4 separate regions of the Homo sapiens genome follow, and regions 1, 2 and 3 are each linked to region 4. Evidence: fine-mapped expression QTL. A gene starts in region 4. Each other region holds a variant in brackets. All regions are shown on one strand. Distances are between the middles of the regions.

What was found. PIP is the estimated chance that this variant, and not a neighbour inherited with it, causes the effect.
Region 1: its variant is the best candidate, but not a certain one, in a credible set for the expression of SLC39A10 in whole blood (INTERVAL, PIP 0.61).
Region 2: its variant is the best candidate, but not a certain one, in a credible set for the expression of SLC39A10 in follicular helper T cells (Schmiedel 2018, PIP 0.67).
Region 3: its variant is the best candidate, but not a certain one, in a credible set for the expression of SLC39A10 in lung (TOPMed, PIP 0.89).

The regions. Positions count from the first base shown.
Region 1 is chr2:195,863,768-195,871,767 of GRCh38, forward strand. DNAH7 (dynein axonemal heavy chain 7) reads right to left here. Exons shown (of 65, transcript NM_018897.3): 41 at 382-1,254. Among named protein-coding and RNA genes, the nearest start is that of DNAH7, 200 kb to the right of the region's middle. The variant T/G (reference allele first, on the strand shown) is at 3,810.
Region 2 is chr2:195,673,162-195,681,307 of GRCh38, forward strand. It overlaps SLC39A10 (solute carrier family 39 member 10), which reads left to right. Exons shown (of 10, transcript NM_020342.3): 2 at 6,871-7,889. The coding sequence starts at 6,882. Among named protein-coding and RNA genes, the nearest start is that of SLC39A10, 20 kb to the left of the region's middle. The variant AT/A (reference allele first, on the strand shown) is at 4,588.
Region 3 is chr2:195,720,806-195,728,951 of GRCh38, forward strand. SLC39A10 (solute carrier family 39 member 10) reads left to right here. Exons shown (of 10, transcript NM_020342.3): 9 at 7,354-7,544. Among named protein-coding and RNA genes, the nearest start is that of SLC39A10, 68 kb to the left of the region's middle. The variant C/T (reference allele first, on the strand shown) is at 4,885.
Region 4 is chr2:195,652,297-195,660,442 of GRCh38, forward strand. It overlaps SLC39A10 (solute carrier family 39 member 10), which reads left to right and starts at 4,930. Exons shown (of 10, transcript NM_020342.3): 1 at 4,930-4,985. RefSeq lists silencers at 5,199-5,248, 5,279-5,398, 5,599-5,698.

The DNA of each region.
Region 1 (8,000 bases), 210 kb after region 4:
CTCCACCTACCACTTCCTGAGTGTTCCAACATCCCCTCTTGGTTCCCTTAACCCTGCCTACCCCTCTGTGAACAGTTCCTTCATTATGCTTTCTTCGGTGAAGGGTTCAAGGTTGCTCTGTGCTTCCTGTCAGGACTCTGATACACAATTTTATCATAACACTTCCTATAATATATTGAAGTTAGTGATCACATATATTCTTAATAAATACTTTTCTATTATAATTTCTTGAATTATAATTTCATAAGATATAACTGATCAGAAGATTCTGCTAAACAATATTTTGGGGTAAACTACAGGTTGGGAATCTATAAAATAAGTCATGATGATAGTGGAAATTCAACATTTCTAGAAGTCTATCTAAAATGTACATGACAATACCTGAAACCAGTCAATGGTACAGCAGTTAACAAGAGCAGGGAACTTTCTAAGACGATTCCGAAATGCATCTCCAATGGGACTCATGGCAAGGACCACATGCAGTTGGCTGCGGCAATGATCAATAAACATGTTGAAAAGGGCTATGGGGCTGCCATCTGTTTGCTTGGTTTTATCCCGCTGGCGATCTAACTGACGCATCTTATCACATATCTCTTGCTTCTCATCTAATGCAAAGAGATTTGGAATCTCCCCAGCATTTAGCAGATTACTGACATCTTCCAGAAAAGACTCTTCTTTAATTTGAGTATCTGTAAACAGGAAGACACCCTGCATCTCACCTTCCGCACATTTCCTTAAGATCACTTTTAAATCTTCATGCCATTCAGTAGTATCATACCCCTTAGAGATTTCAACTTGGAAAACTGAATAATCAGCCATGTGGGCAGCTAATCTGGTGACAGACTGCCTTCCACTCCCTCCAACCCCTACTAGGAGAGCATGGCTGCGAGGCTGCTTCAGGATCCTGGAAATTCTGCTGATGTGCTCTATGGCAAATCGAAACAAGACAAGGTTCATGGGTTTTTTGCTTATATTGTTGTATTCTTCTAGGTGAATTTCTACTATCATTCGAAGATTATCCACATCTGCGATTTCTCTGTAGTTGGTATCCTCCCTCTTGGGATCATGGAAATCACAAAACATTAAGCTGCGTAAGTCATCTGCTTCCACCATGCCATCATTATCAAAATCCAAACGCTGAAAAAGCTCATGAAAATCTTCATACATGTAGTTTCTCAAAATTTCTTGAATGTAGTTGATGAGCCAGCTTCTGTCTGTATTGTCCAGAAGGCGGTCATAATACACTCGAAGGACCTGTATAATAATTAAAAAGCAGCTTTAGAAACTTTCTTCTGATTTTTAAGAAAGTGTTATTATATCTGTGCTAATCTCAGGTAATAAAAATATTAGAAAATTTCTGCAGGTTTTATTAAAAGTATATCCAAATAATCAGGACTGATTCACAATAATGTTATTTTAAATGTTAATTTTAACTCTATATTTAGAATAATAAGGTTATAGTCAGTTATCAATCAATGAAAGGTAATTTTGGGGGTGGGAGCTGAAGCAGATGTAGAGATGCTAAGAGAATTAAGGCCTTGAGAAGTTAGTGACTGCCTTTGCTGGCTGCTCAGATGTGGATAGCAGAGCTGGGCACCAGTACCCAGGGGGTACCCAACACCTTTCCAGTGATGTTTCCTTTTTCTAAGATAGATAACATTTTGAAAGTTATTGACAAATCAATAGTTTTTGCTTTTGTTTTTGTTTTTCAAAAAGCACATTTTCTAGAACAGGAAATGTCTTGGGTAGAGGGAGAGTTGTTTGGGATACCTGTTAATTATTTTTGTTTTAAGTCGTTACAGAGAGCAATCTACTAAAATAAATCTCCGGTTATATGCACATGTTATGGGACTGCAAGAAACATCAGGCTTGCTACATGTAGCAACTGTTTTCTTAAAGAAGTGTGTCCCAGGGGTACAGTCTATTTTGGACTGAATTGTGTCCCCCCAAAATTCTTATGTTGAAGCCATAACTCTCAATGTGACTGGATTTGGGGATAGGGCCTTTAAGGAAGCAATTAAGGTTAAATTAAGTCATAAGGGTAGGGCCCTAATCTTATAGGATAGTGTCCTTATAAGGAGAGGAAGAGGCATTAAAGCGCTCTCTCCCTCTCTCTCTCTGGTTCTTGTTTCTGTTGGGCAGCCCTTATATGCACAGAGGAAGGGCCATGTGAGGACACAGAGACAAGGTGGCTTTAGCAAGCCAGCGTGAGAAAATAAATTTCTGTTGTTTAAGCCACTTAGTCTGTATTATTTTGTTAATGGCCAACTAATACATATATGCTATAAATAATGCATATTTCGTCAGTGGAACGTTGGATCCTTACTCTGCTCTACCATTTTGAGTAAATCACTGAAAATGTCTGCATCAACTTCTTCACCTATAAAATAGAAGTAGTATTACCTACCTCGCAAATCTCATAGATTTGGGGAAAAAGTAACATGACAAAATATGTGAAAACACTGTAGAATTCAAATAGATAATTACTGCAAATTGCCCTAGCATTAAGGTTAATGGTGTTCAGGAATCGTGGTTTTAGTGTATTGTTATCAAATTGATGATTTCATAGTGTTATCCTTTTTTTTTTTCACTAATAGTGTCTGCATAAGCAAATGGTATTATTTAAACTTCCTTCTTATTCCAACCAGTTCAAAAGTTATTTCTCTGTGAGACAATCTAATTTCCCAATACATGCCAATGGCCAATCTTTGAATTGAGGTACTTAAGATCTCAGACAATATTCCTAAATTAAGTCAACTTCATGTATCAGGATCAATGCCTAAGCATGAAACAAGTATATTATTATCTAGCTGGCAGTTTAGCAAGAACCTATAGCAGCATTTCTCAAAGACAGTCAACACATCTGCATTAAAATCATCTGAGGTACTTATTCAAAATGCAAATTCCTGGGCCCCACAGTGGATCTGTTGACTTAAAAACACAGAGGATGATTCCTGGGAATATCTTTCCATTTCTTTTTGTTTTTTCTTTTTCCTTATTTAAGGTACAGATATGGTTTGGCTGTGTTCCCACCTAAATCTCATCTTGAATTCCCACGTGTTGTGGGAGGAACCTGGTGGGAGGCAATTGAATCATGGGGTGGGTCTTTCCCGTGCTGTTCTTATGATAGTGAATAAGTCTCACGAGACCTGATGGTTTTAAAAAGGGGAGTTTCCCTGCACAATCTCTCTTCTCCTGTCTGCCACCATGTGAGAGATGCCTTTCACCTTCCACCATGATTGTGAGGCATCACTAGACATGTGGAACTGTAAGTCCAATAAACCTCTTTCTTTTGTAAATTGCCCAGTCTCGGGTATGTCTTTATCAGCAGCATGAAAATGGACTAATACAGGTACAACAATCTTAAGTGTACAGCTCAAAGAATTTTGGCACACAGTTATACATCCATGTAACCACCACCAAGATCAAGATATAAAATTTCCAGCACCTTAGTAAGCTCCCTCATGCTCACTACTGTTGGTCCCTGCTTTCCTCCCTCCCCAACAAGGAACCATTATTCTATCACCACCTCTCACATTTTAAAAAGTTGACACTTAAAACTTTCTATTATAAATCTAAATTGTTGCAAAGGATATAATTTCTGGTATATTTATATTGTAATTTGTGCTTTGAATTTATTTACCTCAAAGTCTTGATTGCAGACTTTTAAAATTGAGATATAATTCATGGACCATAAAATTCATTCTTTAAAAGAATACAGAATCAGAATATTCACAAAGTTGTGCAACCATCACAACTATCTCCCTCCAGAACTTTATCATCACCCCAGAAAGAAACCTGGTACCCAA[T/G]AGAAGCTACTTCTCATTACCACCAGCCCTGGCCAACACTAATCTATTTACTATCTCTATGGAACTAACTTGCTTATTCTGGATATATGATATAAATGAATCATATCATAGGTGACCTTTTGTGTATGGACTTTTTAACTTAGCACAATGTTTCTAGGTTCATCTATGTTGTAGGATATATGAGTATTTCTTTTTAGGACTGAATACAATTCCACAGTATGTATTTACAATATTTTGTTTGTCCACTCATCAGCTGATGGATATTTGGGTTGTTTCTACTTTTTGGCTATTATAAATAATTCTGCTAATAATATTCATGTACAAGTTTTTGCATGGACATGTATCAGTTCTTCTGGGTCCACAGTTAGGAGTGGAACTGCTAGGTCATATGGTAACCCTATGTTTTAACCTTTTGATGACCTACCAAACTGTTTTCTATATTACATTACTGCCAGCTATGTATGAGGGTTCCAATTCTTCCACATGCTCACCAACACTGTTCTATTATTCATCTTTTTTTTTTTTTTTTTTTTTTTTGAGACAGAGTCTCGCTCTGTCACCCAGGTTGGAGTGCAGTGGTGCGATCTCGGCTCACTGCAAGCTCCGCCTCCCGGGTTCATGCCATTCTCCTGCCTCAGCCTCTCTGAGTAGCTGGGACTACAGGTGCCCGCCACCACACCCGGCTAATTTTTTGTATTTTTAGTAGAGACAGGGTTTCACCATGGTCTCGATCTCCTGACCTCATGATCCGCCTGCCTCGGCCTCCCAAAGTGCTGGGATTACAGGTGTGAGCCACCACGCCTGGCCTATTATTCATCTTTTTTATTACAGCCATCCTATTGAGTGTGAAAGGTACTTAATGGCAGTTTTGATTTGTATTTCCCTAATGACTAATCATGTCCTTATTGGCCATTTGTATATCATCTTTGGAGCGATGTCTTTGAATCCTTTGCTCACTTTTAAATTGCATTATTAGTCTTTTATTGTTGAGTTATAACAGTTCTTTATGTATTGTGGATACTAGATACTTAACAGTTTATATGATTTGCAGGTATTTTATCCCATTCTATATATTGTCTTTTCATTTTTTGGATGGTGTTTTTTGAAGCATAAAATTTTTTAATTTTGATGAAACATATTCATCTATTTTGGGGGTCTTGTTTTTGCAGAATATCTGTATTTAACAAGCAAACCAGGTGATACGTGCATTAACTAATGTCTCAGAGCCATGGAGAAGCCAAAGGGAATGAGTTGTCAGTTTTATACCTTAGAAACCATTTAGTGAAATTATATAAGGTTATCTAGTATGATAATGATGTCTGGAAAGGAAAAAGACATGTAAAGTAGTCTCTAACATATATTAAACCCTGAAGAAATATTTTCTGAGTGAACAGAAATAAAGCACAAATTAGTGTTAAGTTCAATTGTTGCAGGACTTTTCCTTAGTTCAGCTAAAGGTGGGGTCCTTGTTACACAGCCATGAAAATTTTGCCTCACAGACTATTTGAATGGTGAGTAAAACAGGTTTTATTGAGTGAAAGTGAAGAAAAGGGGGAAACAGGGACTCTCCACAAGGCCAGCGTCCCTTCTAGAGTGCTTCCCACCCTGCAGATTGAATCCCAGGTTCCATCCAGGAAGAAGAGGGGCCAGGCTCCTCCCCACTGCAAACAGCATGAACTTCTGTGGTTCCACCCCAGTGCACTGGCTGGCTGGAGTTTCTCGGGGGATCCCTTCCCACCTACTGTCTCACAATTACCTCATATTTTTAAAGATGTTGAGAATAATGTACCAAACATCCTTCTTGGCACTGCAGTAAGAAAAAAAAAAGAGAGAGGAAAATCTCTGCTCTCATGGGGCTTGCCTGCTATCTGAGGGAGATGAACAACACATATAACGAATGAATTCTACAACATGTTGGACGTTGGAAAATATTATGAAAAGAAGTAAAATAGGACAGGATAAGAAAGACTGGAACTACTAGGATAGGGGAGGGGAGTCAGGCTGTGGTATTAAAAAGCTTCAACTAGAAAGAAGAATTTGATCAAAGGCAGGGAAGGAGCTATTCCAGAGCATCAATATCTGGGGGAAATATTGCAGGCAGAAGAGAATAGCCAGGAGACCTGTACTGCTGGTGAAAGGGGGATGAGGATGAGAGCAGGAGGCAGCCTGAGGGGAACAGGCTAAGAGGAACACATCCCAGATCCCATGGGCCACTGGACTTTTATCCGAAATTCCTCTGAATGAAGTAGGGTGCTAATACAAGGTTTTGAGCTGAGGACTAAATTCATTATGTTTTATATAGGTATGTATAAATATGAAGTAGTAAACCTCACTAAATGCCCAAAGAGCTCAACAACCATTATCAAAACTCAATAATCTGACATCTAAAGCAGCACAGAATCTAAAAAACTCTTAAAAGTAATTATGTCTAACACATATACAATAGCACAAACAACCTATTCCCATGATTGGAAGAAAGCACTGTTATGTATAATCTCAAGTGACAGAACATGTCATGTGTAGCAAGCCTGCCTGCCTTCCTCTCTTTATGCACTCATTCATTCACCAATATTTATTGAGTGTTTTCTGTGTGCCAGGCACTGGGAAAACCAGCGCATAAATATAACTGCTATTCTCATAAAGTTTCTATTATTGCAAAGACAATAAGTAAGCCCCAAATTTAGAAGGTGTCAGGTGATGTTCAATGTTATGAAGAACAAAGCAAGGTAAGCAGTAAAAAATCAAGGGGGGTAGGGATGGCCCAAAGCAAGCTTGCATGAAAAGGGGGTATTTCAGCAAAAATCTGAAGGAAGGAAGTGGGCAAGCCTGCAGATAACAGAGAAAGAGTGTTCTAGGCAGAAGGAATATCAAGGGCAAAGTTACTGAGGTGGAGGATGCCAAATGCTTCCTCGTGAGTTAGATTCACCCATGACAAAATGCTGCCTTCAGCAATGCAATCTGCTATGGTTTCAATGTTTATGTTCCCCCTAAATTTATATGTTGAAATCCTCACCCCCAAGGTGATAGTATTGCAGTGGAGACTCTGGGAGGTAATTAGGTCATGGGAGCAGAACCCTCATGAATGGAATTAGTGCCTTTATAAAAGAGGCCAGAGAGCCCATTGCCCCTTCCACCATTTGAGGACATGGTGAGAAGGCACCACCTATAACTAGAAAACAATCCCTCACCAGACATGAAATCTGCCAGTGCCTTGATCTTGAACTTTCCAGCCTCCAGAACTGTGAGAAATTAATTTCAGTTTGTTGACAAGCCACCCAGTTTAGGTACGTTTTATAACAGCCTGAATGGACTAAGGCATGCTCCTTGAATGAATTCAGCATCATCCTCCCTGTTCACTTCCCCCACACTCTCCAGCTCTCAGTACATTTCTATTACCCATGTGGCCCCCAAACACAAGCCTGCATCCGTATCCTGGGAAGTGGGTCCCATTCAGGCAATTAGGTAACCTGCTGTGGAGTGCTATAAGAATCTCTACATCATCCTTTCCAAAGAATCACTTTTGGAGACCTTGTTGTGGCCAAAACATGCAAGTGGAACGGATCTTCACGTGGACATATATTTGAATGTGTGATGATTTAGGAATTCAAACTGTATATCTAAAAAGTCCAGAGAAACTGGATTTTTAAAAGACCTTTTGAAATTTATATCTCTGTAGTACATGGTTGTAACACAGTAGCACATTCTCGTGTTCTATGTTTCTTAACTGCATATTAAAATTAAAATAAGGGTCTTGCTCTATCACCCAGGCTGAAGCGCAGTGGTGCCATCATAGCTCACTGCATCCTCAAACTCCTAACTTCAAGCAATTCTCCCGCCTCAGCCTCCTGAAGTGCTGGGATTACAGGCATGAGCCTCCTCTACCACTTCTTATAAGAAAATGCTCATCCACATACCTATTCCCAAGAGAGCTTAAATACATTTTTATATAGTTTCTATGCTCTCAAGAATTTGCTTTGCAATTCTTTTGGCATCTAGTAATACTATACAAATAAGTAATGTAAAAAAAAAAAACCACATTCACTTCTTATAAAAACATCTCCTTAAAAAGTGTTCCATTTCAAATTTATTTGAAGTCAAACTAACAAGGATTAAACTACTTAAGGGAAGGCGGATCACGAGGTCAGGAGATCGAGACCATCCCGGCTAAAACGGTGAAACCCCGTCTCTACT
Region 2 (8,146 bases), 21 kb after region 4:
TTCAGTTGACTAAACTATTATTTATTAATTTATTTTGAGACAATGTCTCTTATTGCCCAGGCTGGAGTGCAGTGGCAAGATCAGGGCTCACTGCAGCCTTGACCACCCAAGCTCAGATGATCCTCCTACCTTGGCTTCTGACACGCCACCATGCCCAACTAATTTTTTTTGTATTTTTTTTGTAGAGATGGGGTTCTGCCATGTTGCTCAGGCTGGTCTTGAACTTGCGCTCAAGATCCGCCAACCTCTGCCTCCCAAAGTGTTGGAATTGCAGGCGTGAGCCACAGTGCCCAGCCCAAAGTATCATTTTAGAGAAATGGAAGTGTTTGGTAATTTATTTGTATAAATAGGCACTCTCAAATGTTGTCTAGCTTGCATCAAACTCACTAGAAAGGCTGGATAAGTCATTGCTAATTTATATGTGTAAATAGGCACTCTCAAATTTTGTGTAGCTTGCATCAGACTCACTAGAAAGGCTGGATAAGTCATTGCTGGGTCCTATCCCTAATGTTTCTGTTATAGTAGGTCTGGGTGGGATGCAGGAATTTGCCTTTCAGATTTCTAGCAAGCTTATGCTGCTCTCACAACCACAGTTTGATTAACCACTGATGCAGGTTATGTGGTATCTTTTCAGATTTATAGAAAAGTACACAGAAGAATAATCAAGCACCTGAATCCCATTATCTTGCTTTAACAAATATTAAATGTTTTATCATATTGCATTAGATCCCTTTCCCTTTTTTAAAGAAATAACACACTGCAAATGCAGTTAAATCTGTGTACTTCCTCTATCAGCTGATTTCCCTCCTTCCCTTTCTGAGAAGATAATGACTCCAGAATGTAATCATCCCATGTTCTCTTGCTACATGAATATATACCCCCAAATAAGTAATTCTGCATGTTTTAAGATTGTCTGTAAATTATACAGCATGTATCTTTTTGCAATTTTAAAAATTATATTTCTGAGATTATTGCATGTTAATACAAAGTCCTTCATAGTCACATTTATAACTGCAGTGTAATCTTTAAATAAATATACCATATTTATTTATTCTAATGATGAGCATTTAGGTTGTAGCAGGCAACATAATGGTTACACAGCTGACCACTTTTCCTTATTTTATTTTATTTTTGAGACAGAGTTTTGTTCTCGTTGCCCAGGCTGGAGTGCAATGGCATGATCTCGGCTCACTGCAACCTCCGCCTCCTGAGTCCAAGCGATTCTCCTGCCTCACCTTCCCGAGTAGCTGAGATTACAGGCACCCGCCACCAGGCCTGGCTAATTTTTGTGTTTTAGTAGAGATGGGGTTTCACCATGTTGGTCAGGCTGGTCTTGAACTCCTGACCTCAGGTGATCCACCCGCCTCGGCCTCCCAAAGTACTGGGATTATAGGTGTGAACCACTGCACCCGGCCTGCTTTTCTTTATTTACCTCCTTTTTTCTTGAGGCCTCTTATTCCCCCATGTTCTGTGAGTATTGCCTCTCCCACATACAGTCATATGCATTGCTTAATGCTGAGTATGTTCTGAGGTGCAGGCTTAGGTGATTTTGTCATTGTGTGAACATCATAGAGTATACTTAGACAAACCTAGATGGTGTAGCCTGCTATACACCTACCTATAGAGTATAGCCAGTTGCTTCTAGGCTACAAACCTGTTGATATACTGAATACTGTAGGCAGTTGTGATACAATAGTAAATATTTGTATGTTTAAACATAGAAAAGGTACAGTAAAAATTCAGTATAAAAGATTTTAAAAATGGTACACCAGTGTTGGGCACTAATATGAATGGAGCTTGCAGGACTGGAAGCAGCTGTGAGTGAGTCAGTGAGTGGGCAGTGAGTGAATGTGAAGGCCTGGGACATTACTATACACTACTGTAAACCAGTGATTGGCTTTAGCATGGGCATGTGGTAGAGACCTGACTGATCAAAGATACGTAAAGAGAGGCTTGAGGGAAATATTTTTCTCCCTGGATAAAAAGAGAGACATGAAGATGAACCTTCCATCCAAACAAGATTTCTGAGGAGGAAAAAAAATAAAAATTGTATTTTAAAAAAGATAAATCTTCCAGTTTTGAATATGATTATGCAAGGTTATCTTGGGACTCTGAGGGTAAATTTGAGCGTGCTTGGATTTTTGGTACTGTCCTAGAATCACCCATTTCTCCTGACTTCTTTTTATGTGAAAGTTTTCCTCTGTTTTACCCACTTTGGTTGAGTGTTCTGTTATTGCAATAGTTCACATTAGAAAAACATTTACAATATTGTAATAAGGATTCTCTTTTTTTGAGACATAGTCTCGCTCTGTCGCCCAGGCTGGAGTGCAGTGGCGTGATCTCAGCTCACTGCAAGCTGCGCTTCCCGGGTTCATGCCATTCTCCTCAGCCTCCCGAGTAGCTCGTACTACAGGCGCCCGTCACCATGCCTGGCTAATTTTTTTGAATCTTCAGTAGAGATGGAGTTTCACCGTGTTAGCCAGGATGTACTCGATCTCCTGACCTCATGATCCACCCACCTCGGCCTCCCAAAGTGCTGGGATTACAGGCGTGAGCCACCATGCCTGGCCCCAGTAAGGATTCTTGAATGTGTCTTTGCGTGCCTAAGTGCAAGGGTAATTAAAATGGAACTTGGGGGCTGTAGAGTGTGTTCATATTTGGCTGTAGTAAATGTCAAGTTGCTTTCCAAAATGGCTGTACCAATATATACTTCCACCAGACGCATAAGGTAGTTTGTTTCTTTATATTAGACCTTTACTTAACATCTAGTATTGTGAGATACTAATTTTTGCCTGTTACTGTCTTAGAGCCTTATCTAGATTTGAATTGCCTAGATTATTAGTCATCATGTTGCTGTTTTACCAACCTGTTTTATGTTCTTTTCATAGTTGTCTATGTAGTAGTGGAGTTTTTTTATTACTATATGTGCTTTATATACTCTGGATACTGATGTTTTATATACATTGTTTATATATACACATTGCAAATATCTTCTAGTATATGGCTTGCTATAAGCTTCCCCCTCCCCTGCCGCCACCGAGACAGAGTCTTGCTGTGTCTCCCAGGCTGGCAGGCTGAAGTGTGGTGGCACAATCTTGGCTCACTGCAACCTCCACCTCCCGAGTTCAAGCAATTCTCCTGCCTCGGCCTCCTGAGTAGCTGGGATTATAGGCGCCTGCCACAGCGCCTGGCCTATAAGCTTTTTTTTTTTTTATAGTGTCCTTTATTATAGAGTATTTTTTAAAGAATTTAGTTAATCAAAAATTTTCATCATGATATGTGCTTTGTGTCTTGCCTAAAAAATATTTCCCTATCCCAAAGACATAAAGACATTCTCTTACATTTTCTTCTAGAACTTGTTGATAATTTTGCTTTTCACATATAGGTTTTTAATGTTCTTGGAATTGACTTTTGTGTGTAGTGTGAGGAAGAAACATTTTCACAGTCAATATTATTGATGCTCTTTCAGAACTCTGTTCCACTCCACTGGCCTATCTACCCCTGTGCTAGTTCTATGTTATTTTCGTTAGTATAATTTTATAAAAAGAAGTCTTTAATACCTTGCTAATCTTCTGAATTGTCTTGATTGTCCTTGGGTTTTTGCTTTTATGAGTTTTTGAATGTGCTTATGAAGTCTCACCAAAACTAAACAGCTACCAGGATTTTAACTGGCATTGAGTTAAATTTGTATATACACTTGGGAAGATTTTATGTACCTTATGCAGTATATCCCATCTATTCATGTAGATGATGTGTTTCTCCAGGTTTTTCAGTTCTTTGCTGTCCTTCAATAACATCTTAATAAGTTTTTCCTTTTAGTGGTTTTATATGTCTTGTTCTAATTAATTCTAGAAACCATACAATGTTGTTTATAATTACATTTTGTGATTGGTTTTCAGTGAAGAAAATTTGATTTTTATAAAACTTTGTATTGAAATAGACTGTGTTCAGAAAGTACACAGAGCATAAGTGCCATGAATTATCACAAAGTAAACATATTTACATAACTACTACTGATATCAGGAAAGACCATTACACTTTGCAGTCCCCTCCATTCTGGTCTTCTCCCAATTATTACCCTCTATCTCTCTTTCAAAAAGTAATCATGGCCAGGTATGGTAGCTCACACCTGCAATCTTAGCACTTTGGGAATTTGAGTTGGGAGGAGTGCTTGAGGCTAGGAGTTTGAGACCAGCCTGGACAATAGAGCAAGACCCCAAAAAGAAGAAAATTAAAACTGAGCGTGGTGGCACACACAGCTACTTGGAAGGCTAAGGTGGGAAGATCTCTTGTGCCTGGAAGTTTAAGGCTCCAGTGAGCTATGATTGCGCCACTGTACTCTAGCCTGGGTGTCACAGTGACATCCTGTCTCAAAAACAAACAAAAAAAAATCCACAAAGTTTAGTTTTATTCCTTTTTACCTTTATATAAGAATTATACTGCTTTCTTTGGTGTTTGTCATTTTTTTCCCAATATTTGTGAAATTCATCTATGCATGAAGCTGTAATTTCATTTTTATTCCTGTGTGATAGATTTTTCTGTTTCATTTATCATTTTGTTGTTGATTAACATTTAGGCTTTTATCAG[AT/A]TTTTTTTTTTTTTTTTTTGACCAGAGTCTGTCTCTGTTGCCCATGCTGGAGTGCAGTGGCACGATCAGGGCTCATTGCAACCTCTGCCTCCTGGGTTCGAGTGATTCTCCTGTGTCAGCCTCCCAAGTAGCTGGGCTTACAGGCACATGCCACCACGCCTGGCTAATTTTTGTACTTTTAGTAAAAATGGTTTTACCATGTTTGCTAGGCCTGTCTTAAACTCCTGACCTCAGGTGATCTGCCTGCCTTGGCCTCCCAAAGTGCTGGAATTACAGGTGTGAGTCACCACACCCAGCCTTTTTTCAGTTTTGACTGTGATGAATAATGATTACGTGAATATTCATGTTGGTATTCATGTACATGGATTTCTGTTGGGCATATACCCCAGATTAAAATTGCTGTGTAAGTACATAGGCTTACATTCAGCTTCTGGCAGATCTTGCCAAACAGTTTTTCAGAAGATACAATCTCTAATACTACTGTCAGTACACAAGTTCCATTTAACTCTATATATTCTTGCCTACTTTTGATATTGGCAGTATTTTATATTTCAGTTATTTTCATGGGGTATATAGTGGTATCTAATTGTGATTTTAATTTGGTTTCCTGAAGACTTCTGAGCTGAACATATTTTCATTTGCTTTTTAGGAGTTTGGCTGCTGTTATGAAGTGCTTGTTCAAGTTACCTACTCATTTTTTCATTGGGTCGTCTTATTGTAATTTTCATATTGATTTATAGAAGTTCCTTATATATTTTTGAGTATACATTGTGGTAGTCTTCTCCCAGTCTGCAGCCTGCCTTTTTAGTTAGGTTTTTTTTTTTTTTTTGGATGTCTCTTGATGAAACATAAATTCTTAATTTCAGTGTAATATATTATCAATTTTGTGTTCTATCTCGAAGGTCTTAAAATTAGTCTCCCAAATCTTCAAGATCTGCGCTTTCCAGTACAGTAGCCAGTAGCCACACGTCTGTTGAGCACTTGAAATACAGTTAGACTGAATTAGGATGTGCTGTAAGTGTAAAATACATGACAGATTTCAAAGACATAGTATTAAAAAGAATGTAAAATATTTTAATAATTTTTATATTGATTAGATGTTGAAATTATAATATTTTGGATATAATGGGTTAAATAGAATAGTATGAAATTAGTTTCATCTATTCTGGAAAACTTCAGAATTACATAATTGGCTCTTATTATATTTCTAGATTCTTGAAGTATGCTTGTCCAATAGAACTTTCTATAATGATGGACATGTTCTGCGTCTACGTTGTCCAACATACTAGCCATTTGCTACATGTGGCTGTTGAGCAATTAAAACATAGTCAGGGTGACTGAGAGGCTGCATTTTAAATTTAATTTTAGTTCATTTAAGTACCCGTATGTGACTAGTGGTGGCTACCATTGAATTGGACAGTTCTGGACACTTTATCATTTTAGCATTTCTTGTTTCAGATTTATGTTCAGGAGCTATTAGCAATTGATTTTTGTAATGATGTGTGAGGTAAGGGTCAGATTTTATTTATTATTTTCTTTTGTGTGGAAACCTAATTGACCAAGCACCAAGGAAAAGACCATCCTTTCCGGTTTTTAGCTTTTGTCTTCTGTTCCTTTAGTCTGTTTGTTATTGCACCAAATACCACAGCATCTTTGATAATTCATAGAGTAAATGCTTCAATTTTGTTCCTCAAGGAATACATCTTAGCCGTTCTTGGCCCTTTCTATTTCCACATCAATATTAAAAACAGTTAATCAGTTTTCACAAAATTCTGAGATTTTGACTGGGGTTGTATTGGATACATAGCTTATCCAGTCATAACATGATATAGCCATCCGTTTATTTAGGTCTTTTATTTCTCTCAGTAATTTTCTGTCAATAATATTTCTCTCAATAATTTCTCTCTTTTCTATGTAAAGTTCTTGTATGTCTTTGGTTAGATACATTCCTAGCTATTTGCTACTGTTGTAAATGTTACTATTTTTGAGTTTTATTTTCTAATTATTGCTGATATATAGGAATATAATTTATTACTGTCCTTATATTCAGTAACTGTACTAAACTAACTTATTCTTAAAGATTCTTTAAGGCATGCTGCATAATTAATTCTACCATTTGTGAATAATGACAGTTTCACTTTTCTCTGGTTCTTAACATATTTTATCATGAAGGAAATGGAGTAAAACTTTTTTTAGTGGATTGGCAACTTCCAGAGAATTAGATTGTTTTGAATGTGTCTAGGTAGAAACTAATACTTGTCTCTCTCTTTAAATCTCTTTAGGAAAAATAGAAATGAAGGTACATATGCACACAAAATTTTGCCTCATTTGTTTGCTGACATTTATTTTTCATCATTGCAACCATTGCCATGAAGAACATGACCATGGCCCTGAAGCGCTTCACAGACAGCATCGTGGAATGACAGAATTGGAGCCAAGCAAATTTTCAAAGCAAGCTGCTGAAAATGAAAAAAAATACTATATTGAAAAACTTTTTGAGCGTTATGGTGAAAATGGAAGATTATCCTTTTTTGGTTTGGAGAAACTTTTAACAAACTTGGGCCTTGGAGAGAGAAAAGTAGTTGAGATTAATCATGAGGATCTTGGCCACGATCATGTTTCTCATTTAGATATTTTGGCAGTTCAAGAGGGAAAGCATTTTCACTCACATAACCACCAGCATTCCCATAATCATTTAAATTCAGAAAATCAAACTGTGACCAGTGTATCCACAAAAAGAAACCATAAATGTGATCCAGAGAAAGAGACAGTTGAAGTGTCTGTAAAATCTGATGATAAACATATGCATGACCATAATCACCGCCTACGTCATCACCATCGTTTGCATCATCATCTTGATCATAACAACACTCACCATTTTCATAATGATTCCATTACTCCCAGTGAGCGTGGGGAGCCTAGCAATGAACCTTCAACAGAGACCAATAAAACCCAGGAACAATCTGATGTTAAACTACCGAAAGGAAAGAGGAAGAAAAAAGGGAGGAAAAGTAATGAAAATTCTGAGGTTATTACACCAGGTTTTCCCCCTAACCATGATCAGGGTGAACAGTATGAGCATAATCGGGTCCACAAACCTGATCGTGTACATAACCCAGGTCATTCTCATGTACATCTTCCAGAACGTAATGGTCATGATCCTGGTCGTGGACACCAAGATCTTGATCCTGATAATGAAGGTGAACTTCGACATACTAGAAAGAGAGAAGCACCACATGTTAAAAATAATGCAATAATTTCTTTGAGAAAAGATCTAAATGAAGATGACCATCATCATGAAGTAAGTATAAAAAGATGTCCGATAGCTGCTTCGTAATTCTCACATAATTGTGGTGCATTTTAAAAACAGGATAAGTAACAGTGGAGTATTAATCATATTTAAACTTATTTCCATATGTTTACCTATGAAATATCAGGTAATGTTCATGAACAGAATACATTAAGGAATCAGAATCAGTGTAAAGATTTTTAAGTATCCGGGCGCGGTGGCTCACACCTGTAATCCCAGCACTTTGGGAGGCCGAGGCGGGTAGATCA
Region 3 (8,146 bases), 69 kb after region 4:
TTTTCATAGTCTTTATATCTCTGGTTTTATTCTGTTGTAGTATATCATTGCCAGATATATCTGCTTAAATGTGATGTTCTTATGTAATTAAAGTCTTCCAGTAGCTTTCCTGACATATAAAATAGAGCTGGATTTTATATATTTTTTTCCCCCTGTAACAGGGTCTCCCTCTGTTGCCCAGGCTGGAGTGCAGTGGCTTGATCACGGCTTAGTGCAGCCTTGACCTCCTGGGTTCAAATGATCCTTCTACCTCAGCCTCCTGAGTAGCTGGGACTACAGGCGTGCACCACCATGCCCAGCTAATTTTTGTATTTTTGATAGATAGGGTGTTGTCATGTTGCCCAAGCTGGTCTTGAACTCCTGGGCTCAAGTGATCCACCTCCCTCAACCTCCTAAAGTGCTGGGATTACAGGTGTGAGCCACCACGCCCAGCTATGAGTCACACTTTCAATGACCTTCACTTCTTCTCTCTACCTAGCTTTTTAGTGTTACCTGCAGTACATCCTGTTACATGTTTTTCATTTCAACTAAATGCAATTCACCAAATGTGTAGTGTGGGTGCCTGAATCTGTTTCCTTGTTTATACCATTCTCCTACATGGCTGGCCCAAATACTTCTATTCCTAGTTTATCATGTTAAGAATCTTCAACTTTATTACTGTCTTTTACCTCATGCCTTGGATTACTGTTTCCTCTTAGTTTTATTGTTTGCTTTCTCGGGGTCCTTCACCCATTTTCTTGTTAGATGCCGTATTTCTTAAACTGTAGTTTTTTAATGCACAGATACGACGTCTTATGCTCTTCTCTAACTATCACATACTGCTGTTGGTCTATCACATACTGCTGTTAGCCTAACTCCACAAATCAAGGCTATCAGTTTTTATATATGAGTTAACATGTTGCCTCATATTTAATCTTTCACTTAAAAACTATTTTTAGTAATAGACTTGGATAATCACGCATACACCTCCATAATATACTAGAAAAACCTCCAACTTTCCTTCCTGTTCATCTACCCACTACCTGGTAAATGGAGTGTCAGGCTACTTCAAGTTTAAGTGTGGTTTTACTGAATTGCCATAACCTTGAAGGATTCACTCAGACACAGAATTGAAAACAAGTTGGAGATTAAGGATGGTTACCTTCTTACCACCCTTTTTCTGTCTGCAATTTCTCATTGAAGGAGTGACACACAAGGGCTGATAACCACATGTAGAACAAATGCATTACATACATTAATAGCTAGGGAAGCCCTTGATACCCAATGCAGAGCTCTGGTAAAAAACTGGAGCGGAGAACTCTGCTTGGACCAGGAACCCCTAGTGAGACATTCAGACCTCAGATGTCTACCTGTTTTATCCCACAAATCAGAGGCTGAGATGTTGCTACTGCTATGAGAAGATATGTCAAGCCAGAGTATACTGAATTTTGCTAGAGGGAAAGGAGTGGGCTTTTAGAAAATGTGCATTTTTCCTAATGTTAAATTGATGTAAACTATACCATACTGTAGCTGGATAGGCTACTAGGGAAGAAACAGTGTAAAGAAATGACCCAGCTTCCTCTTCTGGAGGTGACAGAAAGGGCTCTGGTCCTTGTATCTATCAACAAGTTAGGAAGTGGTCTAGGGACCATAAATAAAGGAAGTAAAAATATGATTGTGGAGCCTAGTTTTTGCCTTAAGGCACAGCAAAGGGCACTTTTTGTACAATAGGACCAGGTCAGTGTCCCTACTCTGATCAGATCATCTATTCTTACTCGGAGAGGAACAGGATGTGGAGAAAGGCATACAAGCTTCTTCCTCAGAACTCCCAAGCACAGGGAAAATCATTCCTCTATAGGTTGAGTTAGAAGCATGGGCAGATAGAGCCAGGGAGAAGTCCACTTCCCACTTTCTAGGTTAAGATGTTGACAAAGTAGTATAGTATGTCACATTTCAGGATAATTTATTTGATCTAAAACCTATTTTGCCCTGTTACATTTTTCATTATGAATTCTTAAAACAATTCTGAGATTTCCATACTGACCTCAGACCCTTGGAGGAAAAACATGTTTTCCAATTACATTGCAATACATGGAGACTGACCCTCAGTTGGTAATTCCAAGTTCTAGTGTTCCCTTTCTGAACAGATTGCTGTTTTTCCCGTGGTATATTCACTGAGACACAGAATTGAAAACAAGTTGTTTTAGAGATTAATGATGGTTACCTTCTTAGCACTTACCCCTTTTTCTCTCTGCAGTTTCTGCAGGTGTTTTTTGTAGTTGTGTTTAGGAATGTGATACGTAAAGACATATCCTTAGAACCATAGAATAACATATAGTTCAGGGAATTTGACTGTAAGAGACATGAAGAAATTGAAAGCATTTGAGGAAATAGCAAACTCACATCTCATTTTGTGTTTGCTCTCTGGTGTGGTAATGGGTTAAATTGCCTGAATTACTAAGTCACTACTCTCTTTTCTGTGTTTGCCGAACTTATGTAGCTGAATTTAAGTTACAATACTACTTTGTCTTATCTCTTCACTGTTTTCCACCTTCCTTCAATAAGGAACTGTATAAGCATTTGAAGAATAATTTACAGAAAAGCCTGTAGTAGGAGGAGGCCATCTATAGGTAATGTAATGTTGGGGACCATCCAGAGGGCAGGAGGAAGACAGCCGCTTCCAGGTTTGAACTCAGGACAGATCAACCACCTGAGTGTCGTCTGCACTCTCAGAACAGCCCCAGAGTCTTGGACTCCACCAGGGTTTCACAAACTCCTGCCGGAATTCTGAGACTCCCACAGAGAGGCTTTTGACTGTGGATGGATGCAGAATTATTCTTGTGGATGTTGGGATATGAGTGGGTCACCTTCCATTTTGACATCTTGGTCTATCACAATTTCCCAAACATTCTTCTTGATGTTGAGTAATGTGTTTCAACTTCAAGGAAATAACATTTTGATTAAAAAAAAAAAATACAGCCATGGGGCAAGGGTTAGAAAACTTACCTATTGGGTACTGGGTACTATTGTGTAGTATACCAGGGTGACCAGTCATACCCCCACACCTCAGCATCACATAATATACCTCTGTAACAATCCTGCACATGTACCCCATGCTTCTAAAATAAAAGTTGAAAAAGAAAAAAATATGTAGCCATATTATTAAGACTCAATTAAGAGAGGTTATAGTGTTGTACATTTTTCCTTTCTGTCAAATTAAGGATTACATAGAAATTTAAAATAAGATTTTCATAATGTGTTAAATTGTCCACAGGAAATTGAACATTCATTGTATACATTTATGTAGAATTTTAACATGTATACAACCATTATTTAAGACAAGAATAAAGAACCTTAAAATATATACATGTTTTAAAAAATCTCAGTAGTGGATGTTAACAGATGTTAACATCTGTAGCATTGGATCTCATTAGTTTAACAGCTTTGGCAGGCACACCTCATTCATTGTGCTAATGATATCCCTTGTCAGCAGGAAGGAAAGAATATTGATTTATCAAAAGATGAATAGATTTGCATGTTTACTATAAATCCCTGCTGTGAGGATTCCTTTGACTTAGTTTTAAAATGTTTATACAGGTTCTCACTGAGAAGGGAAATGAGGAAAAAGAGAAAAATATGCAGATACCTTTGAGAATTTATAACCTGAGATAAGACTACAACCAAGATAGATTTTAAAATGAAATAATTCACTTGATACAAAGATAAGTATACAAAAATCATTTGTATTGCTATATACTAGTAATCAACAGTTGAAAATAAAATTTTTAAAAGGATCTACTTATAATAGCATCAAAAATATGTAATATTTAGCTTAAATCTAACAATATGCATAGACCTACAAATCATCAGTAAAAGAAACCAAAGGAGACTTAAATGAAGAGCTATACCAGGTTCAGGGACCAGAAGACTATTGTTAAGATGTTAATTTTTTCCTATAGACACAGTGCATTCTCAGTAAAAAATCCAGCAGGCTTTTTTGCAGAGATGAACAGCTTTTTTAAAAATTTTATATGGAAAGGGGAAGGAACTTGAATAGCCAGTAGAATTTTGCAAAAGGGCAGCAAAGTTGATTTAAGATTTACTATAAAGCCACCGTAATCAAAACAGTTGGAATTGGTGAAAGAGTAGACACATAAAGCAGTGGAACAAAGCAAAGAGTCCTCACATATATGGCAATTAATCTTCAACAAAAGTACAAAGAAAATTCCATGTTGAAAGGATGGGATAGTATTTTCAACAAATGGCGCTGTAACAATTGGACATCTACATGCAATTAAAAAAAAAGGAAGAAAGAAAAATACCTTTGACCCATATCTCACTATAGAAAAAACAATGAACTCAAAGTAGGTAATCTAAATGGAGATTCTTAAAAATAGAAGAAAATATAGAATATCTCTGTGTCTTTGGGTTAGGCAAAGTATTCTTAGATACAGCACTAAGCATACTCCATTAAGGAAAACAGTCATAAAATACACTTCTTACAAATTAAAAACTCTTCACAAAAGACAGTTAACAAAAAGGGAAGCCACAAACTGGGACAAAATATTTGGACAATACATATCTGACAAAAGACTTCAATCATAGTAAAACAAACAGCCCAACAAAATAAAATAGACAAAAAGACTTGAACAAATGTTTCACTGAAGAAAGTATACAGATGAGATTTCAGATGCTGGATTTCAAATTGTGGGCTGTCAAGGATGTGGAACAGCTAGAGCTCCTATACATTGCTGGTGGGGATGCAATTTCTTATAAAATTAGAAATATGCTTAACTGTGTGGCCCAGTGACCCCACTTAATAGGTGTCTGCCCAAGAGAAATGAAAACTTATGTTGACATAAAAGCCTGTTTATGAATGTGTGCAGTGGCTTTCTTCATAATTGC[C/T]AAAAACAGTGAACAACTTAAATGTTCTTTGCTGGTGAATATAGATAAATAAACTATGGTTCATCTATGGAATATTACTGAGCAATAAAATAATTTTCTGATATACACAGTAACACGAATGAGTCTTACATGCATTATTCTAAGTGAACAAAATCTAAACTTGAAAGACTACATACTGTGTGCTTCCATTTAGATGATGTTCTGGTAAAGGCAAAATTACAGGAACAGAAAGCAGATTGTTGGTTGCCTAAGGGCAAGTGGCCTAAAAAAATTTTGGAAGGGTAATGAAAAAGTTCTAGAGTTTAATGGTGTTTATGGTTATAGGGTGTATGTGTTTGTCCAAATTCATAGAAGTCTACATTTTTAAAAAATGAAATAGTTGTGTAATTATACCACAGTTTTTAAAAGTATTAAATGAAAATAGTTCGCCTTGAATCTTGATTTGTTAATTCATGCTGTTTGGTTGTTACTTAGGAAGGAACTTAAACCATCTTGCTATGGCAACAAAGTTGGTGTATTTTGTACCCATGACACCGTTGTTCATTGAGTATTAAATAATGCTCATTTTTAAACGCATTATTAAATTATAAAAGGAAGCAATGCATTTTGTAATCTAAAAGACACTTCTGTAGTCTCAGTTTGTTTTACATAACCTGCTAAATGAAATTGCCTCTTTAGCACAGTTGGTGTGTGATTTATTGAAAACAAGGAGAGGAAATTTGTTAGGGAAGTTAGGGAGCTCTTTCCACAGAGAAAAAGCTGAGAAAGACTGGAGAAAATTAACGAAACTCCAGGAGAGAGAAGAGATAAAAGCTGATATTAAATCCGGGTCTCAGCAGGAGAATTAAGGTATTTAGGATCAGAGGAGAAAAGATGTAAGGAGAATAGCATTAGGTGAAAACTGGACAATTACAACTTAGAAACCATTGGTAGATAATCTCCTTAGGTACATTATCTTAACTTTCCAAAACAATGCTGCAGTGTTTAGTTTGTAGCAATTTGTTGGAAGGTAGAAATAAACCTTGCAGTAATTTCTTTATTGTTAACTTCTCCTTGTTATAGACTATGAACCTTGTAACCATGAGAGGTATAGAAGAATAATAGATCATGTATTTTTAGATACGTAGCTGTTAAGATCCTTAAGGGAAAGAAACAAGCCCAGTTAGTATTCTGTATCGCACCTTGCATATGCTGAGTGTTCAATAATTGATTAGATGTTTGTTCATGTAGTAACTGAAACAAAATTATTATAGTATGTAAAGCTAATGGGTTTTTTTCTTTCATACCTCTTCAAGGTGGAACAAGCTATTGCTTTCGACCCATTAGCTTCAATACTATTATTATCTCTAGCATCATTTTGTCCTTCCACTGACACTTCTCTGAGCAATATTTTTTTCCCCCTAATGTTCCAACTTCATTATTTTTCATAGGCACTAGTCAAGCTTGCAGATAATGTTCCAACTTTAGACAGATGAATAAGAAAAGTGCCTTTCTTCTTATTTGGAGGGAGGGGGTGGCGGGAGGAGAGTCCATTGAGGATCCTTAGAAAAAGCATTTCAGTATTTTCCCTCCTGTGAGTTTTTGTCTTACATCAGCTCTGTGGTCATGGATGATTTCACAGTCACCAGTGTCACCATTCTTCATCAGCACAGTTAGAAACAGACTTTGGAGTATGGCTTAATAAGAACCTGGCATTTGCTCTATTTTCAGCATTGTCGATGCTCTTCGGAGCCTCAGCCAGATATTTATGTGCATCATTGTAGAAGCACGGAAAAGTGGTAGGAAGAGCTCTTCATTCTTACTACATTTTTAGAATTTTCAGGATTAAAGTTTTTCTTTCTGGGAAAAAAAAATAACTGTAACCATAGCATAAAATATACTTAAAGCACCTGTTACCTCTGTTCTTCCTTAGGCCATTTCCCTTTGAAGAAAGGGTAGAAGTTCGAGCAGGGAGGTCTTGATTGTTGGTTACAAGAAGAGCGGTGACCATGTTTTTTTCTTTTGTAAAAATTTGACATTTAAGTTGTACAGTAGAATTGACTTTTTTTGTGAGTACAGTTCTTTGAATTTTAACATATATATAGATTTCTGTAATCACTGCCACCATCAGGATCAGAGTAGCTTTGTCACCCCCAACAACCCTTGCCCCGTGCTCTTCCTTTAGAGTCGCAGCTCTCCACCATCTCTGTCCCCTGGCAACCACTAACTGTTCTTCATTATTATAGTTTTGTCTGTTTCAGAATAGATATATAACCTTTCAGATGGACATCTTTCAGTATCATGCCTTTGAGATTCATCCAAGTTTTTGCATGCATTATGGTTTAATAAGTAAAATATTTTATATATCACATAAAATACTGTTATTAAAAGTGTGTATCTTTTTAATGCTGATTTTATTTGTTTTCTCCTTTCAGATTTGTGTTTTAAATCCTGTGGTTTTAAAACATTCCCATTGTTTCTTAATTGCAGGAGATTTTGCAGTTCTTCTTAAAGCAGGCATGACTGTAAAGCAAGCAATTGTATACAACCTCCTCTCTGCCATGATGGCTTACATAGGCATGCTCATAGGCACAGCTGTTGGTCAGTATGCCAATAACATCACACTTTGGATCTTTGCAGTCACTGCAGGCATGTTCCTCTATGTAGCCTTGGTGGATATGGTAAGATATTTTATATTTTTTTGTGGTACTAAACCTGCAAATGAAAGAAATCCTTGGAAGTGGTTTGAAGCCAAACTATTTTTGAAAATATAACTCATTTTAAAGACATAATATCCTAAATAATCTCTTAAGGAAGGACATTTAAGTAGGAGGTTTCCTTTTATGGAAACCAGTTGAGTTGCTGAAAATGTCTGTCCATCATGTTACTATTTAAATAATCATTAGTAGTAGAGTTATAATTACAGAATTATTATACTACTTTAAAGACTTTGTAATATTGGTGTAGAAGTGTTTTATTTTTGTTAGCAAAATTAATTTTTTGAGTTTGTTTTATGGCAAACAGGAGAGAAATACTATTCCTGTTAGGTAAGCCAGTCTTCTGGAAGGAAGTGGTATATATTCCATAGGATTTATGTAATTTCTCTTATTTCTAAATTTAGCTTAAAGTTAAATGTAAATGCTAACAATTTGTTTTATTTTGATTTTACTTTAATACCCCAAATATGTTAGACAGTGTATTTACAGAACTAGCAATTAGGTTTTTATGTTTGTTTGTTTGACTAGATAGGACATTTACTTTTTTTTTTCTGGTAAGATCACAG
Region 4 (8,146 bases):
CAGCACTTTGGGACGCCGAGGCGGGTGAATCACTTGAGGTCAGGAGTTTGAAAACAGCCTGGCCAACATGGAGAAAACCCGTCTCTCCCCCAAAATACAAAAACTAGCTGGGCGTGGTGGTAGGTGCCTGTAATCCCAGCTACTCGGGAGGCTGAGGCAGGAGAATCGCCTGAGCCTGGGAGGCAGAGGTTGCAGTGAGCCGAGATCTCGCCACTGCACTCCAGCCTGGGCAACAGAGTGAGACTCATCTTAAAAAAAAAAAAAAAAAGAAAGAAAATTTTAAAAAAAAGATAAGGGGTTATGGAGACCAAGGTTCTTATTATGCCGATGAAGCCTCCACCTAGCAGGCTTCAGAGAGAATAAATTGTGTTTCTTACCAGACTTTAAAAGACGCCAGACTCAGTTAATTCTCTCCTGGATCAGGGAAGAGACTTGGAAAGGGAAGGGGATTCTCTACAGCAGGGGTCCCCCAGCCACTAGACTGGTTCGGGTGCATGGCCTGTTAGGAACGGGGCCACACAGCAGGAGGTGAGTGTCAGGCAGTGAGCATTACTGCCTGAGTTCCACCTCCTGTCAGATCAATGGTGGCATTAGATTCTCATAGGAGCACAAACCCTATTGTGAACTGTGTATGTGAGGGATCTAGGTTGTGCAGTCCTTATGAGAATCTAACTAATGCCTGATAATCTGAGGTGGAACAGTTTCATCCCAAAACCATCCCCACCCACCCCCATCTGTGGAAAAATTGTCTTCCAGGAAACCAGTCTCTGGTGCCAAAAAAAGTTGGGGACTGCTGCTCTATAGAATGTAGATGTTTCCCACAAGAGACAGTTTTGCAAGGCCATTTCAAAACATGTCAAAGAAATATATTTTGGAGAAAAATACTTAGAATTCTTTCAGAGCCTGCTATCTGTCATGTTGGTATCATTGCTACAAAAAGTCTCTTTCATCAGTCTTAAGGTCTGTTTTAATGTTAATACTGGTCATCTGTGCCTGAATTTTTTTTTTTTTTTTTGAGACAGAGTCTTCTTCTGTCACCCAGGCTGGAGTGCAATGGCACAATCTCAACTCACTGCAACCTCTGCCTCCTGGGTTCAAGCGAGTCTCCCTGCCTTAGCCTCCCGAGTAGCTGGGATTACAGGTGCCCGCCACCATGCCTGGCTAATTTTTGTTATTTTTAGTAGAGATGGGATTTTGCCATGTTGGCCAGCTGGTCTCGAACTCCTGACCTCAGGTGATCCACCCGCCTTGGCCTCCATAAGTGCTGGGATTACAAGCGTGAGCCACCACACTCGGCCTGTGCCTGAATTTTAAAGTGAGGAGAATATAATGAGGCATGTTTAACCATCCATTCCCATCATGCCTGGTACTAGTGTTTCAGGTTAACTTTGGAATGCCCTTGGCAAAGAAGAAGTGACCATTCAGTTAGTTGGGAGGCTTAAAATTTTATTTTTGGTTCACAGCCTCTCTAGGCATAGCTTTGTCTAAAGTAAACTTTTAGGCCATGTAAAAGTAACAGTTTAAACTGGAGATGAATTTAGGAAGGGGTCTTTATCATTGGTTATTACTAATCTTGAATCACGGAAAGAACAAGTGAGTTTGAAAGGCCTGATTTCTTAGAATTAGTCGTGTTCTTTTTTTTGTTTGTTTTGTTTTTTTGAGACGGAGTTTTGCTCTTGTTGCCCAGGCTGGAGTGCAATGGCATGATCTCGGCTCACCGCAACCTCCACCTCCCAGGTTCAAGCGATTCTCCTGCCTCAGCCTTCCCAAGTAGCTGGGATAATAGGCATGTGCCACCAAGCCTGGCTAATTTTGTATTTTTAGTAGAGATGGGGTTTCTCCGTGTGGGACAGGCTGGTCTCAAACTCCGGACCTCAGGTGATCCGCCCACCTCAGCCTCCCGAAGTGCTGGGATTACAGGCGTGAGCCACCACGCCTGGCAGAATTAGTCATGTTCTTTATAGATTTCATTAAAGACTCTTAATTTTGTTGTGTATGATGACTATTTTCTCCTCTGTAAGAGGGAAACCCAGGTTTATGACATGGACTTCCTTCAGCCACTGCTAAAGATTGGGGTATGAAGTAGGTTTCTTATTTCCTCTTTTGTATTAATAGTTGGTTCTTTTCAAATCCTCTGAGGGGCAAAAAGACCCTTGGATTTACTATATCATGTCTCACAAAGGTAGACTGGTCACATTTGAAATTTTAGATATGTGAACTAATATTGTGGCTGAAGCAGCATGAATAAGCTAAACAGTGAAAGGTAAACCATTTACACATAATTCAGTACCTCTCTTTCCCCCAGGTACTGAAAATCATTTATACTATTTTTATAGTTGAGATGAGCTTCTTTATGAATCAAGTGAGGTGGCTGGAAAAAGAAAATGTCTTACACTTTCAGAAAGTTTTATGATTATAACATATTAGAAAGTCTTTACCCTAACATATTTCTTATATATAAAACTGGTAAAGATAAAATGAAATTCATATATTGTTGCTGTAGTGTCCATTATTTGACTCAGCAGGTGATTTTGTGTAAGCCTGCAAGTCATTTTCTGAGATTCCTTTTCTCAGTAGGAAAAGTAATATGCTAGTATGCAGAGAATCATTTATTCTATCTGATAATTTTGCTTGAAAATCTGCCCAAATCAGTGTGTATACACTTGAAAGTAAATAAATGTTTGGGTGAGTTTAAAAAGTGTTAGGAGACACAGTCTCTATTTTCAAGTTGCTTACCACATAGTTTTCTATAGGGATGACATTTAAAATATGTAACAATTAGTAAAGAATAGGCACCAACCAAGTAGAATGGGAGTGACTAATAAGAGCTGGGTCCAAAGGGCTCTATCTTAGCCAGGTATTAACCCACTAGTTCCTAAAATGTGGAGGTCTGGGGAATCTTGAGAGGAAGGACTGGCACAGGGGTGAGAAGCATGGGGGGATACCACTCAGAGTTGCAGCTGTTAACCAACTTGCATTGAAGTATTTCAGTATTTGATTAGTTGGTTCAGCCGTACTTGTGTGTACCAGCTGAACATTAGCCTTGTATATCCATAACTAAAAAAGCAGTGTAGGTGCCCTAAAATGTAAGGACTGCAAGCGCTATATCTTATTGATATTTGAAAGAAAGGTTATGTATGTTTTAAGGGTGTTGATAATAATGTGTTCAATAAAATAAGTATGAGCCATAAAATATCAAGCTAATTTGGAAGCTTCTTATGCTTTGCACACAAAGGATGTACTATCATGATTTTATGAACTCTAAGGACTTTAGTTCTAGGATGAACCTTAGAATATATTTAAAACGATCCCCTTAATTTATCAATGAATCTGAGGACCACAGCTATTGTCTCACATTTAGTGGCAATGGTGAGACTTGAAACTAGGACTCAGGCTTAATCTCTTTTCTCCACACCTCAGGACTTCTCCCTTTGTAAGCAGGAGTGAGGTCCATGCTCTGGCTTTCCAAACAAGGAAAAGGGCATATGAGTAGTTCAGTGTTCTGAACTACGTATGGCAATCAGTAGGCATTTATCAAGCACCATTTTCGTTGTTTTGGATGTTTTTTGTAGAGATACAAAACAAAAAATAACCTTCTTTCATGAAGGTATAATATGCAGGTTAGCGGGACTACCTAGCCGTCCATACTGAATGGGTTTGGAAATCCCAACTCTTTTCTCTACCTGCTCTGTGATACCAGGCAAGTTAAAGTCTTGTGTGCCTCAGTTTCCTACCTCACCGTGTTATGGTGATTAAATTAATATATATGTGGAGTACTTGACACACAGTCAAGCCTGCGATTACTGCTGTTCATGGTTTTATTTTCTCTACTAGACACCAGTAAGGCACCCCCAGAACTCGCTGTGTTAAGTAGATTCTGGTTGGATATAGAAACACAGGCACCCCAGGCGGAATGCAGATACGCCTCAACATGTGGATTAAGTAAGAGCCAGGAAGCAGAGTAATGAAGCAAAAATAAGACGTCCAGAGTCACCTTTTAAGAAAATGTGGGTTGGTGGTTGCTTAAGAGGGGAGGAGACAATTTAGATGGGATGTATGGCGTGAGCAAAGGGCAAGAATGAGCACGGTGTAGGCACAAGTCCATGGAACTGCTTGGCTGGATCGGGATTTTTTTGTCATAGAGTGTTAAGAAATAGTCGATCAGTTGAGGAGTAGAGGAGTGAAGACCTTGGAAAGTTGCCAAAAGCCTCGAGAATTTCTCTACATGTGTGACATGTTCTCAGGACTCAACTTTTTCTTTTAGGTTTGGAAGACCCGCAGTAAGTGTGCTTTAGAATTAAATGGGTGGGAAGGGGAGCTAGGCAAAACACCTCGCACTTAGCACTAAATAAAGTTCGCTGTTGCCCTAAGAGACTGAAAAGGTTACTTTAACAAAGGGGGCGGGGTTAACTTAACGTAGATGTTTAACTCGTATACAGATGAACATTCCAGTTGATCACTCTGAAGCTTTTTGGCTAAAGCGTTTGGGTTTAGAGCTTCCATTACTCATTCGCCTTGCCCAAGGCCTCAGCAACCGACGTTCGAAAGCCAGGAGAAAAGGCGAATGATAAAGGGCGCTCCACGCATGCGTTAAGAAGCCGCCCCAACTCCCCCGCGGCGTTCTTTCTTGGAACAAAACTAGCGCGGAGCCACGGAACTCCGCAGTTTGCGTAGACTTGAATTTCCTATTCCTCGGACGATCCATGTGGAATCCGTGAGTAGTGCGACTCCTTTACGCAACTGGCGTTATCCGAAGTGAATAGCTAGGTGGCGCGTGTACGCCCATAGCGTAGCACCCATAGGCGGACGGGGTGCGGCTGCGCAGGGAGCTGAGTGGACCTTGTACGCCGCAAGCGTAGCAGGGTGTCAGACGCGCCGGTTTCTGCGACGCAGTTAGCGCAGTCTGCTTTGGTGAATACACGATTTGGTGCAGCCGGGGTTTGGTACCGAGCGGAGAGGAGATGCACACGGCACTCGAGTGTGAGGTAACTATAAAACCCCGATTTGTTTACATTCCCTCCCCCAGAACCGGCCCCGTGCGCGGCGGAGACTGCGAGTCCCGGGACGGCGTGGGGGTAGAAAGGGAGAACAGAACCGGGGAGTCGGGGCTGGTTCCCTCGGGGATGCGGGCGCTGGGGTTCCCGCAGCTGCTGCAGTCGGCGGCGGCCAGCCGAAGCAGAGCGCGTGGTGGGCAGAGTGTTGGGCGCCGCGGCTCCTCGTGTGCGGTCTGGGCTGCTGCGGGCCGCGGGATCGGGAGCCGGCGGCATCCACTTCGCGTGCGGAGCCTCGCGCCCCCCTCACCTTCCTGTGGAGGTTGGCGGAGCCTCGCGGGCCGCGCCCGGGGTGGGGGAGTGACCGCTGGGCGGGTGGCGGCGGTTAGGGGGCTGCGCGCCGGCCGCGGATGGCGTCGCAGGCGCGGGCGGGCGAGGCTTTGGGGATCTGTAGGCAGGTCTTCGGGGGCTTGGCGACCAGCGCCCCGGTTTTTTCTTCTCCAGTCCTTCTCTCTGGTCTGTAATGGGGCGAGGGGACCCCGGGATGGAGCCTCGGCACCGCTGTTCCGGACCGAGGCTAACGGACGGCGGCGCCTCTGCTCCTACTAGTTTTCTCCCGGACCAACCGAAAAGCCGAGGCGGAGCGCGGGGGTGTGAAGATCTCGGCCTGCTGGGGGTCCCTGGAGCTGAGGGTGAGGGTGGGGCCGGGTCGGTGGGACAGGCCGGGTGGGCCGGAGGTGGCGCGGCCGCACGGCTTTGTTCCGGAAAGCCCTTAGGTGGAGAGCGATGTGGGGCGCGGCAGGGGGATCGCGTAGAGGAACCTTCGCGCACCGCCTCTCCGGGTCTGGGAATCTGCTGAACTCCTTGCCTCTCCTGGGGTCCCTCGAACGCCCCAGCTAAGAAGGGCGGGGGCCTTGCCAGGGCGCGAGCAACATGACGTTCAAGGTCTTCCTGTGGCTTCTGTAAAGAAATGTTCACGTGGGAGCCTGTCCACATGGGCTGTACTAAGGATCTGGCACGAGGAAGAAATATCACTGCAGAACCTGAAGCCCTCCGTTGGAAGGGTCGTTCACTCGAGTACCTATTCTAAGTAACAGTGACACAAAACACATGTTAGAAAAAAACAAAAAGTATGGTAGGTTATACTGTTTTTTAAAAGAAACTTTTATTTATGCCTTTTGCTGTTAAGTCCTCTAATTTTACATTGGAACTGAGTCATTCTTGGAGCAAAACTAGAATAGGTTTGTATTTGTTTTCTTTTTGGATGTGTATCTAAATTGTACATAATTAAGAAAAAGCAAGTAATGGAAAAGCTGGAGATGTAGAACTTAGTTCCTTCTAACTTAGTATGCAATTGAAAGCCTCAAGTCAAGACTCCTGTGTATTGTTTTGTATTAGGACTCTATTGTACAAATATTTGAGTACCTTAATATGAGTCAGTTACTTTTTCTAGATCTTGGATCCATGCCAGACAACGCACATTCTGCAGACACTGGTTACTCCAGTGGCTCCTTACTGGAAACATATAATATCAGTGATAAGTGCTGTGAAGAAAATAAAACAATGATGTGCTGGTATGGATTTTTAACTTTTTTATGTGATGAACCACAGAATGATGGTTTTAAATGTATGAAATACATAGAATTGCAACAGAAACCAGTTATGAAATAATGAAGATATTAAATATGACATCTATATTTTAGTAAAGCATTAGTGAGGACTGTAAATGATCTTTAAAGAATTTGGCTTAAATTTAATCTAAAATTGCTATCAGGTATTTCACATCGCTGTAATTTTTGCCTGCATTCGTAACTGAAGAGATAAGTAAATGTCAGAGGTTAAGATAAATCTTTTTCTTTTTTTACCTGTCCATATTTACAAACATTCTGCGTTCCGTACATAGACGCCTGGATAAGAACCCCTGTGCAAGAATGACTTTGGTGCTACTTTAAAAAAAGTGGTTGGGGAAGACCTCATAGGAAATGACATCAATAATAGATTGCATGATAACCTATACTAGTTCTTACTGTTACCAATTTAAATTCTAACTGCTTAAAAGCTAACACGGTCCTTCCCTTTTTTTGAGCACCTGATTTGAAGTACTTTGAGTAGGCCTCAAGTGTCGTATGCAAGTACTAATCTAGGGGGTGTGCCTTTTTCAAAAGTGATTTTTGGAGAAGATAGGATGTAGTATTATAGCAAGGAAAATTCAGCATCTGGGATGATCATTTCCTTCTGATTAGAGAAATTTACCTTGTTAATATTCTGTTCACCCAACCCTTCTACCCTCAGTGTTGACCAATACTGGAAAAAATTTAGGGCTTTGGAGTGAAATTTTAAAAGTTCAAAACCTTGATCTATTAATTAGTTTGCTTACCTTGAGGAAGTTGCTTATCTTAATCTTCTATTTGAACTTCAAGTACAAAAACCCTACTCACGGACTTAACTGTGACCATTAAATGAGATAACCAAAAGGCTGAAGATGATAGTGAGTTGATTTTACCTTTTTTCTACATACAGATGTTTCAGTTCTTTCATTAGTGGTTGAAGGTCTGCGTTCTTTTTCTCCCTCCACTCCCTCCTTGACTACCCCCAGAATGAGCTTTGATGGTCTCTACTGGGCCTTTGGGGGGGATACATTATCCTGTTGTTTTTGTTCTGTTACTTATATATAATACTCATGGATTTATTTCTACTTCTCTTCCATTTTCTAATTTATAATAACATGTGCATCTTGTTTTCCCTGCCAAACTAAATTTCGTGAGGGGGTACATACTGCACAGTTTTTTTTGTCACATACTGCTTATGACACATGAATATGCAGAGCTTGTCAAGCTCTTTAATTAAGTTTAAAATGCTAATTGAGTGAATCAAAACTTAACCATTATGGTTAGGCTAAAAATGTCAGCTTGTGTTTATATAGTGCTTACCTCAGTATTGGAAATGCCATGAGTTTAGTATCAGAAGGACATTATTACTAGTGCATTTTAAAGTGATACCAGTCATAGTTGCAAAAGAAAGTACACAATGGGAAATGGAAGAGAAATGTAGGGAATCAAAACAACTAGTTTTTTCCTTTATAACGGAAGTTTTATAATTCATCTTTTATGTAAGTGTAATTCTCATTAAAAATACCCTAAAGCTTAAAGTTTGCA